2 linked regions of the Homo sapiens genome follow. The protein of the gene in region 2 purifies or fractionates together with the protein of the main gene of each other region. This does not show direct contact. Each region holds a gene or a part of one and is shown on either strand. Other genes may lie near its edges.

Region 1 (3,723 bases), on a different chromosome or scaffold from region 2:
TTCTCCTGCCTCAGCCTCCCCAGCAGCTGGGACTACAGGTGCCCGCCACCACGCCCAGCTAATTTTTTGTATTTTTAGTAGAGACGGGGTTTCACCGTGTTAGCCAGGATGGTCTCGATCTCCTGACCTCGTGATCCGCCTGCCTCGGCCTCCCAAAGTGCTGGGTTTACAGGCGTGAGCCACTGCACCCGGCCTCACAAATCTTTCTTAAACTACAATACTGGCTACCATTCCTATTAAAACAGCCAGCAGAGGCAGCTCCCGGGCAGCGTGCGTGCAGTGAGCAACCCTGCTGCTGCCTGCTCGGCTCCCACAGCCCATCACTCGGCTCCCACAGCGCCCGCACCGCGGCCCATGACTGCCTGAACACAGACGCCGCCAGCCAAGATGTCAACCCGAATTCTCCTCACAAAGGCCTGCCGTCCAACTCCATGACCAATGTCCCTGTTGACACAGGTGGGGCTGCCCAGGCTACTGCTGTTGAGGGTCTGACAGAGGCTGAGGAGGAAGAGCTCAGGGCCCAGCTACCAAGACGGATGAGGAAACTGTCACTCTACACCAGTGCTGGCAGCCAAGGAGGGGGACTGTGGAGAGCTTGAGAGGAGGCTGGGCCTCTCTGCCTTGGAGGCTGAAACGGAACCCTCTCTAACGCCTATGTGAAGACTTCTGAGAAATGTGGAAGTGGAATGAGAAAGTGGCCCACCCGGATCTCTGCAAGACTCAGGAAATGCTCCCACAGCAAGACAGAAGACCTCAACCAAGACAGAGACCTCAGCGGCCCTGTCCATGGTGGGCTCTGCCATCAGTAGGAAGCTCGGAGACGTAAGGAAATTTGCAACTTTCAAGTCGTTTGAAGACCAAGTTGGGCCCATGAAGTCTAAGGTCGTGGGTGACAGAGAACAGCAAGGACAATCTCCCTTCCTCAGCAGGGAGGGGCGACGAGCCCGTCGGATCCCGCACCTCTCTAAGCCTGTGGTCGCTTACGCTCAGCTGCAGAGCACACACACACACCCTCAGCATCACAGCCGGAGCTCTGAGCAACAAAGCGGCCAGCCAGGACGCACACGCAGAGCCGGCTTTGAGAATAGTCCTGCCCATCCACAAGGAGACGTGGCTACCGCATCCACATGAATTTCAACAGTTGTGTACATAGTTATATACTAAAGTTTGTAGGTGAAACAGATAACTGTGCTGTCCTTCCTAGGGGTACAGGAAGTGGACAGGGCGGAGGATTTGAAATACTGAGCCAAAGCCCAGGCTCCCTTTAAGAATCACGTTAGTGGCCAGGCACGGTGGCTCACGCCCGTAATCCCAGCACTCTGGGAGGCCAAGGCGGGCCGATCACGAGGTCAGGAGATGGAGACCATCCTGGCTAACACGGTGAAACCCCATCTCTACTAAAAATACAAAAAAATTAGCCAGGCATGGTGGCGGGTGCCTGTAGTCCCAGCTACTCGGGAGGCTGAGGCAGGAGAATCAGTTGAACCCAGGAGGAGGAGCTTGCAGTGAGCCGAGATTGTGCCACTGCACTCCCACCTGGGAGACAGAGCAAGACTCTGTCTCAAAAAAAAAAAAAAAAAAAGAATCAGGTTAGCCCATCAGAATGTTGAAGCATTGAAGAGTCCTACGCATAAGTGGCATTTTTGACCTCCTCCTTCCCTAACTCACAGAAGGAATGCAATCACCCAGAAAGCCCTACCTGTTCCATGAGTTTTTATCTTGAAATGCTAAACAAGAAGTGTCCATTTCCTGCCCACAGAAAGTAAACTGAATATCAACAACTGCCCAATTGTTGTACTAATCTAGCTTTAATGAAAAGCAAATTCATTATTTTTTTTTAATGCAGTGGACTTTTCAAAAATCGAAATTAGGCAAAGCAGCTTTAGCCTCCTAGTGAGAGAATATTATTTCTTTGGACTCAAGCTGAAATTCAAGCCTCACATTACCTCATGCTTTATTTATCATAAACATATAAATGAGGGTTGCTCAATGGCTGTGAGTACTGTGTGGGATTTTACACCTGGCCTGTGTGACTGCCTGTTCCAGTTGGGGTGTTGGTTTCACTAACACGCTCCATCCCAGTGTATAAAACTTGCTTCTCTTCTCAAGCAGGGCAGCTCCCCTGGCTCCCTACTCTGCCCTGAAGGACTTTTGGGCTCCCAGGGGTGGGAGGGGCTAAGAGAAGGAAAAGCCTGTCTTTAGCACCCTTTAGAAGAGCTGTGCCCGCTTCCCAGTGCTGCCTTGCATGGGCCTGGCCCGGGGGGCACTCATCAGTGACTCCAACCCGCCTGCTGGCTGCACTTCAGATGAAATGACCCCACAGGTCAGGTGGAGGGTGGGGCATGGGCATCGGCCAGGATTGCTGTCACCTTTTCTCCGGAGCTACCAAGATCGTTCCTGTTTCTAAGCAGTCGCACCCCAGCAGCCTCTCTCTCTCCACAGCCCTGCGTGTCAGGCAGCCTCTCTCTCACACCACAGCCCTGCGTGTCAGGCAGCATCTCTCTCTCTCCACAGCCCTGCGTGTCAGGCAGCCTCTCTCTCTCTCCACAGCCCTGCGTGTCAGGCAGCCTCTCTCTCTCTCCACAGCCCTGCGTGTCAGGCAGCCTCTCTCTCTCTCCACAGCCCTGCGTGTCAGGCAGCATGGTTTGCAGGGGCAGCTCTGTGCCTCAGTGGCTCTTGGTAGGACACTGAGGGCCTGCCTGTGGTGTGCACAGCTCTGCCACTCCCGGGAGGGGAAGTGCTGCTCAGCTCAAGGTGTCCTGTTCGGCAGAGGAAATGTCCTCTGACAACCGTGTCCCCAGACAGTTCAGACACCCTCGGGGACAGCATCGCACACACGACGACAATGCAGGGGCCAGGGAACCCCAGCGCTCGGTGCCCTTTGTCCAGTGGGATGTGGTAAGAAGGCAGGTTGCAGGGGTGTAATTGATGTATCTTTTCCCCAAAGTTATTATACTAATGAGTAACTTGTCGATAAAGCATTCTTTTGGGGAAAGACTTTTAACCAATTAAATAAAGAAAGCGTGAGTGGAGGGTGTGCACGCACCATCTTGTCGGGGGTGTTGAGGTACAGGTCCACCACGTAACGGATACGCTTCTGCAGCATGGCCTCGTCGTCATCAGGGTACATCAGCCTCATGAAGTCAGGGTTCTCCAGGACGTCCAGAGTCAGCTGGCAGATGGAAGCCTGGTTCTCTTTGGCAGCAACATGCATCACGTTGTACCTGCACCCTTCCTGAAAGAGAACCGCATGCTCTGAGCTTCCTATCTGATGTGTGGACACGCCCTGTGCGAGTGCTGCGATGGAACGGCCGGGACCGCACACCTGCCCGAGGGAACCGCCGAGACCTACCTGCACGATAGTGGGGTTGTCTCCTGAGCCTATCAGATACCGGGGGTTGCTCCAGATAAGGTCAGAAAAGGTGTCCTCCTCTCCCTTCTCCACAGCTTTCCGAAGCTTGGCGGTGAGGTCCTGCGTGCGGGGATTTTTGTAACTGTTCGCTCGCTCTTTGTTGACTGTTTCTGATTCCGACAAGCACAAACCATCTGTCAGTAAGAGACAGAATTTAAGAACAATCAGTTTCACCAAAAGTCACTCATCACCCATGCACCCTCTGATGAGGGATAAGCAGCTTTCCACAGAGGCTTCTGGGCCAACTGGGAGGCACAGGTGAGAAAAGACGAGAAGGGCCCACGGCCACCGGCCCCAGCATGCAACGCAAT
Region 2 (3,723 bases):
CAATAAATATACACCCCGAGAATGAGCGAACCAACGACGGGATCTGGAAACGTCACCACGCCATCGTCACGTGAACACACAAACCATTGACCCGTGGCGTGTGATCCCACCTGCACTAAGTAAAAAGTGTGGGGCACAAAAGCAGGGCACATGGGGAGGAGGGCAGCAGGGCCGGGCACACACTGGGAGGAGGGGAGTTGAGTGTGGGGCCGGGCACATGCTGGCGGGGGGAGTGAGCGTGGGGCTGGGCACACGGGGCGGAAGGGAGTGGGGCTGGGCACACACTGGGAGGAGGGGAGTGAGTGTCAGGCCGGGCACATGCTGTGGGGGGAGTGAGTGTGGGGCCGGGCATGCACTGGGAAGAGGGGAGTGAGTGTGAAGCCGGGCACATGCTGGGAGGGGGAGTGAGTGTGGGGCCGGGCACGCGCTGGGAAGAGGGGAGTCAGTGGGCTTCCTGTGTTCTCGGTGCCTCCCATGGCCTGACGTGAAGGAGAGAACCTGAGCTGTCAGGATCAAGAGCGGGCACTGGCCTATGGACCACAGCCTGGAGGTCTCTCCTCACTCCCACCAGCCTGCCCGCTCCCAGACTGCTCAGAAAACTGACCTGTGGCCTGGGGCTGCTCACAAGTGTGTCTGGCCAGGTTGAGCCCCTGCCCAGTGACAGAGGTGAGTCCTCCCACCCAGGCCTGCTGATCTAAGGCCCTGAAGCAGCAAAGGCTCGGACAGCTGTTCCCAAGCCCAGGGACACCCCTGGACATCAGGAGTCGTCAGCTACAGGACTGAGCCCCCACCTTGGCATCCAACAAGTAATTGTACGGCATGAATATGATGTCGGCTTGCTGCTTCAGGTTCCGGGACAGGTAGTAAGGGCACACCCTGGGAAGGAGAGAGGAGAAGATCCTGTGAGCACCCCATGCAGGGGACGGTGCCCCGAGGCCGCCATGTCTTCTGACCCGGAAGGAGCCCTCATCCTGCACGTAGGGCCCAGGTGGGAAGCTGCTGCCTGGGATGGATGGGAGTCCACGTGAGTTTCTGACCAAGGGATGGGGAGTCCATGTGAGTTTCCGACCAAGGGATGGGGAGTCCTCGTGAGTTTCCGACCATGTAAATCGTCGTCTCTTTAAAAACTCGATGGAAAAGTAAAACCAACCCTATTCCTGGATAGAAACAAACACAACGCAGAACCACTAAGAAAAAGCAGAGCTGGGCCGGGCGCGGTGGCTCACTCCTGTAATCCCAGCACTTTGGGAGGCCGAGGTGGGCGGATCACAAGGTCAGAAGATCGAGACCATCCTGGCTAACACGGTGAAACCCCGTCTCTACTAAAAATACAGAAAATTAGCCAGACGTGGTGGCGGGCACCTGTAGTCCCAGCTACTCGGGAGGCTGAGGCAGGAGAATGGCGTGAACTCGGGAGGCGGAGCTTGCAGTGAGCCGAGATCGCACCACTGCACTCCAGCCTGGGCGACAGAGCGAGACTCCGTCTCAAAAAAAAAAAAAAAAAAAAAAAGAGCTGGCCAGGCATGGGGTCTCACGCCTGTAATCCCAGCACTTTGGGAGGCCAAGGCAGGTGGAACTCTCGAGCTCAGGAGACTGGCCTGAGCAACAGAGTGAGACCCTGTCTGTACAAAAAATACAAAAATTAACCAGGCATGGTGGTGTGTGCCTGCAGTCCCGGCTACTTGGGAGGCTGAGGTGGGAAAATCGCTTGAGCCTGGGAGGCTGAGGCTGCAGTGAGCCAAGACTGTGACACTGCACTGCAGCCTGGGTAGCAGAGCGAGACCCTGTTTCAAAAAAAAGGGGGAGGGAGGTTTCCCCCTCAATATAAGAAGAGCTTTATTATAACTTGAATCTCTGAAGCTGTAAGAGGTAGACATAGGAGACATCTGCTGTCCTCAAAAGAACAAGGCCGAGCTGCCAGCACCAGCATGGGAAGCTATACCCACAACGCTGAGTGAAAACAGCCAACTGCAGGACAGTCTGTGCAGACAAAACTGCGCGTGCTTCCGCACAGACACAGGCCTGCAGGGCTCCGTCCACACTCCACGGTGGCCACCGGGGATGGCTGAGGGCCAGGGAAGAGGGAGACAATTTTTTACTCTATCTTCCTCAGAGCTGCTTAAACTTTTTCGTACTGAATGGTGGTTAGTTTCATAATTTAAAAAGGAACAAAGAAAAGTGAAGAAATATATCCGGGCCTCCACAGGTCACAGGAGAGCTGGGCCATGGAAGGACAGTGGTCGTGGCCTCACTGAGGGGTCTCACCTGTGCTTGCTTCCGCTCTTGACCAAGTCCTCAATGTCCAGGATGGGGCTGGCCAGCTCCTGCTCCAGGCTTTTTTCTGCAGGTGTGAGGCAGGGGTAAACACACACCCTCAGGGTCCACTAAGTCCCAGACCACAGGGGGATGCCCAGGACAGAACGGCTCCTACACGGCGGGCAGGGCTGGGCGTCCCCCACCAACCGTGAACGCGCCACAAAGCACCCACTGAGGGTCTCAGGTGCCCAAGAGAGGCCCCCACCCGAGTGATCCTGAGGGAATCCTCCTCTGCCCCCAGAAGGCCTGAGGTTCAGGGTGGACCAGACGGAGGCCAGCAGGATCCCGAGGGTTCTACGCATCCTCTCCGAGACAGCCCAAGACAGGACAGGAGTGGCGGCTACACTCAGCCCTCCTCAGGGCAGGGAAGAACAGCCCCTCAGCCTATCGCCCCAACCCACAGAGGCATCTCCCACAAACCCCTGCAGGTGCCCCTGTGATTAGCACCGTCACTCAGCTTCCCTGCCAACCACAACAGGCCCAGAACTTCCAGCTAAGGGAGAGCCAGGTTTTCCTGGGCTAAACAGTGGCCCACTCCCCTCTGCAGCATGGCAGCCCTGGCAAAGGACACTGCCTGTACTGGCGGAGAGGCCCCGGGCAGAAAAGGCTTCAGAAGTCAGAGTCTGGGGGATGTCCTGCCCCTCCCTTGCCTCTACAGTACAGGCCCCCCAAACTGGAACCACAAGAATTCCTTAGGGAGTTGCTTAAACACAGACAGAACCAGATACCTCTTCTAACAAGCACCCCAGAGTCACAGGGCAGCCACGTGGGGCAATGGGGCCTCCCCCAGCTCCCGACTCCATCATGGCTGCTTTGTGCCTGTCCCCAGGAGGTGCCAGGCCCCCCGAGGGCCAGGACTCAGCTGCAGAGGCCAGAAGCGCACACATATGCACACGTGCACATACACACACACACACACTCACACACACCAGCGATGACCCAACCCCAGATACTCCCAGGGATAGCAGGGAAGGCAGGGGAGGAAAAGCACACCCCTGGGCAGCACCATAGCAACAGACCAGCCAATCAGCAGGCACTGCCGCACAGCGGCACTTGCCAAACCTTGCCTGGCGGAGAGCTGAGGGCGGGGCGAGGACAGGAGCTGCGAGGGGAAGGGGCACGAGGGGCGGGGCCGTCCCAGAGGCTCTGCCCCAGGCTGACCCCAAGCTTGCTGTCCCCAACCAGAGTCCTCACAGGACGCAGGCCAGGAAGGGTGCCAGCTCTCCAGCTGTCTCCTCATTCGCCCAAAATACCTGCCTCCCTTCCTCTCAGACCCCTCCAGGAGCTGCAGCCCACTCTGAAGATGCTCAGGCCGGTGCAGGTGCTGCAGACACCCCCTCACAGCCTGTCCGGTGGCAGACAGGGTGCGAAGGTTCACGGCTAGGCAACCTCCCGCCAGGTCGGGCA

Evidence for each region.
Region 1: the proteins of RTEL1 (region 2) and ANKLE2 purify together in Homo sapiens (affinity purification with mass spectrometry, with the first as the bait; one large-scale study listed by BioGRID). This does not show direct contact.

The regions. Positions count from the first base shown.
Region 1 is NC_000012.12:132,744,786-132,748,508, forward strand, and holds part of ANKLE2 (ankyrin repeat and LEM domain-containing protein 2), read right to left. Parts: intron 3,547-3,723; coding exon 3,353-3,546; intron 3,236-3,352; coding exon 3,047-3,235; intron 1-3,046. UniProt on the Homo sapiens protein: Involved in mitotic nuclear envelope reassembly by promoting dephosphorylation of BAF/BANF1 during mitotic exit.
Region 2 is NC_000020.11:63,664,622-63,668,344, reverse strand, and holds part of RTEL1 (regulator of telomere elongation helicase 1), read right to left. Parts: intron 2,342-3,723; coding exon 2,266-2,341; intron 877-2,265; coding exon 792-876; intron 1-791. UniProt on the Homo sapiens protein: A probable ATP-dependent DNA helicase implicated in telomere-length regulation, DNA repair and the maintenance of genomic stability. Acts as an anti-recombinase to counteract toxic recombination and limit crossover during meiosis.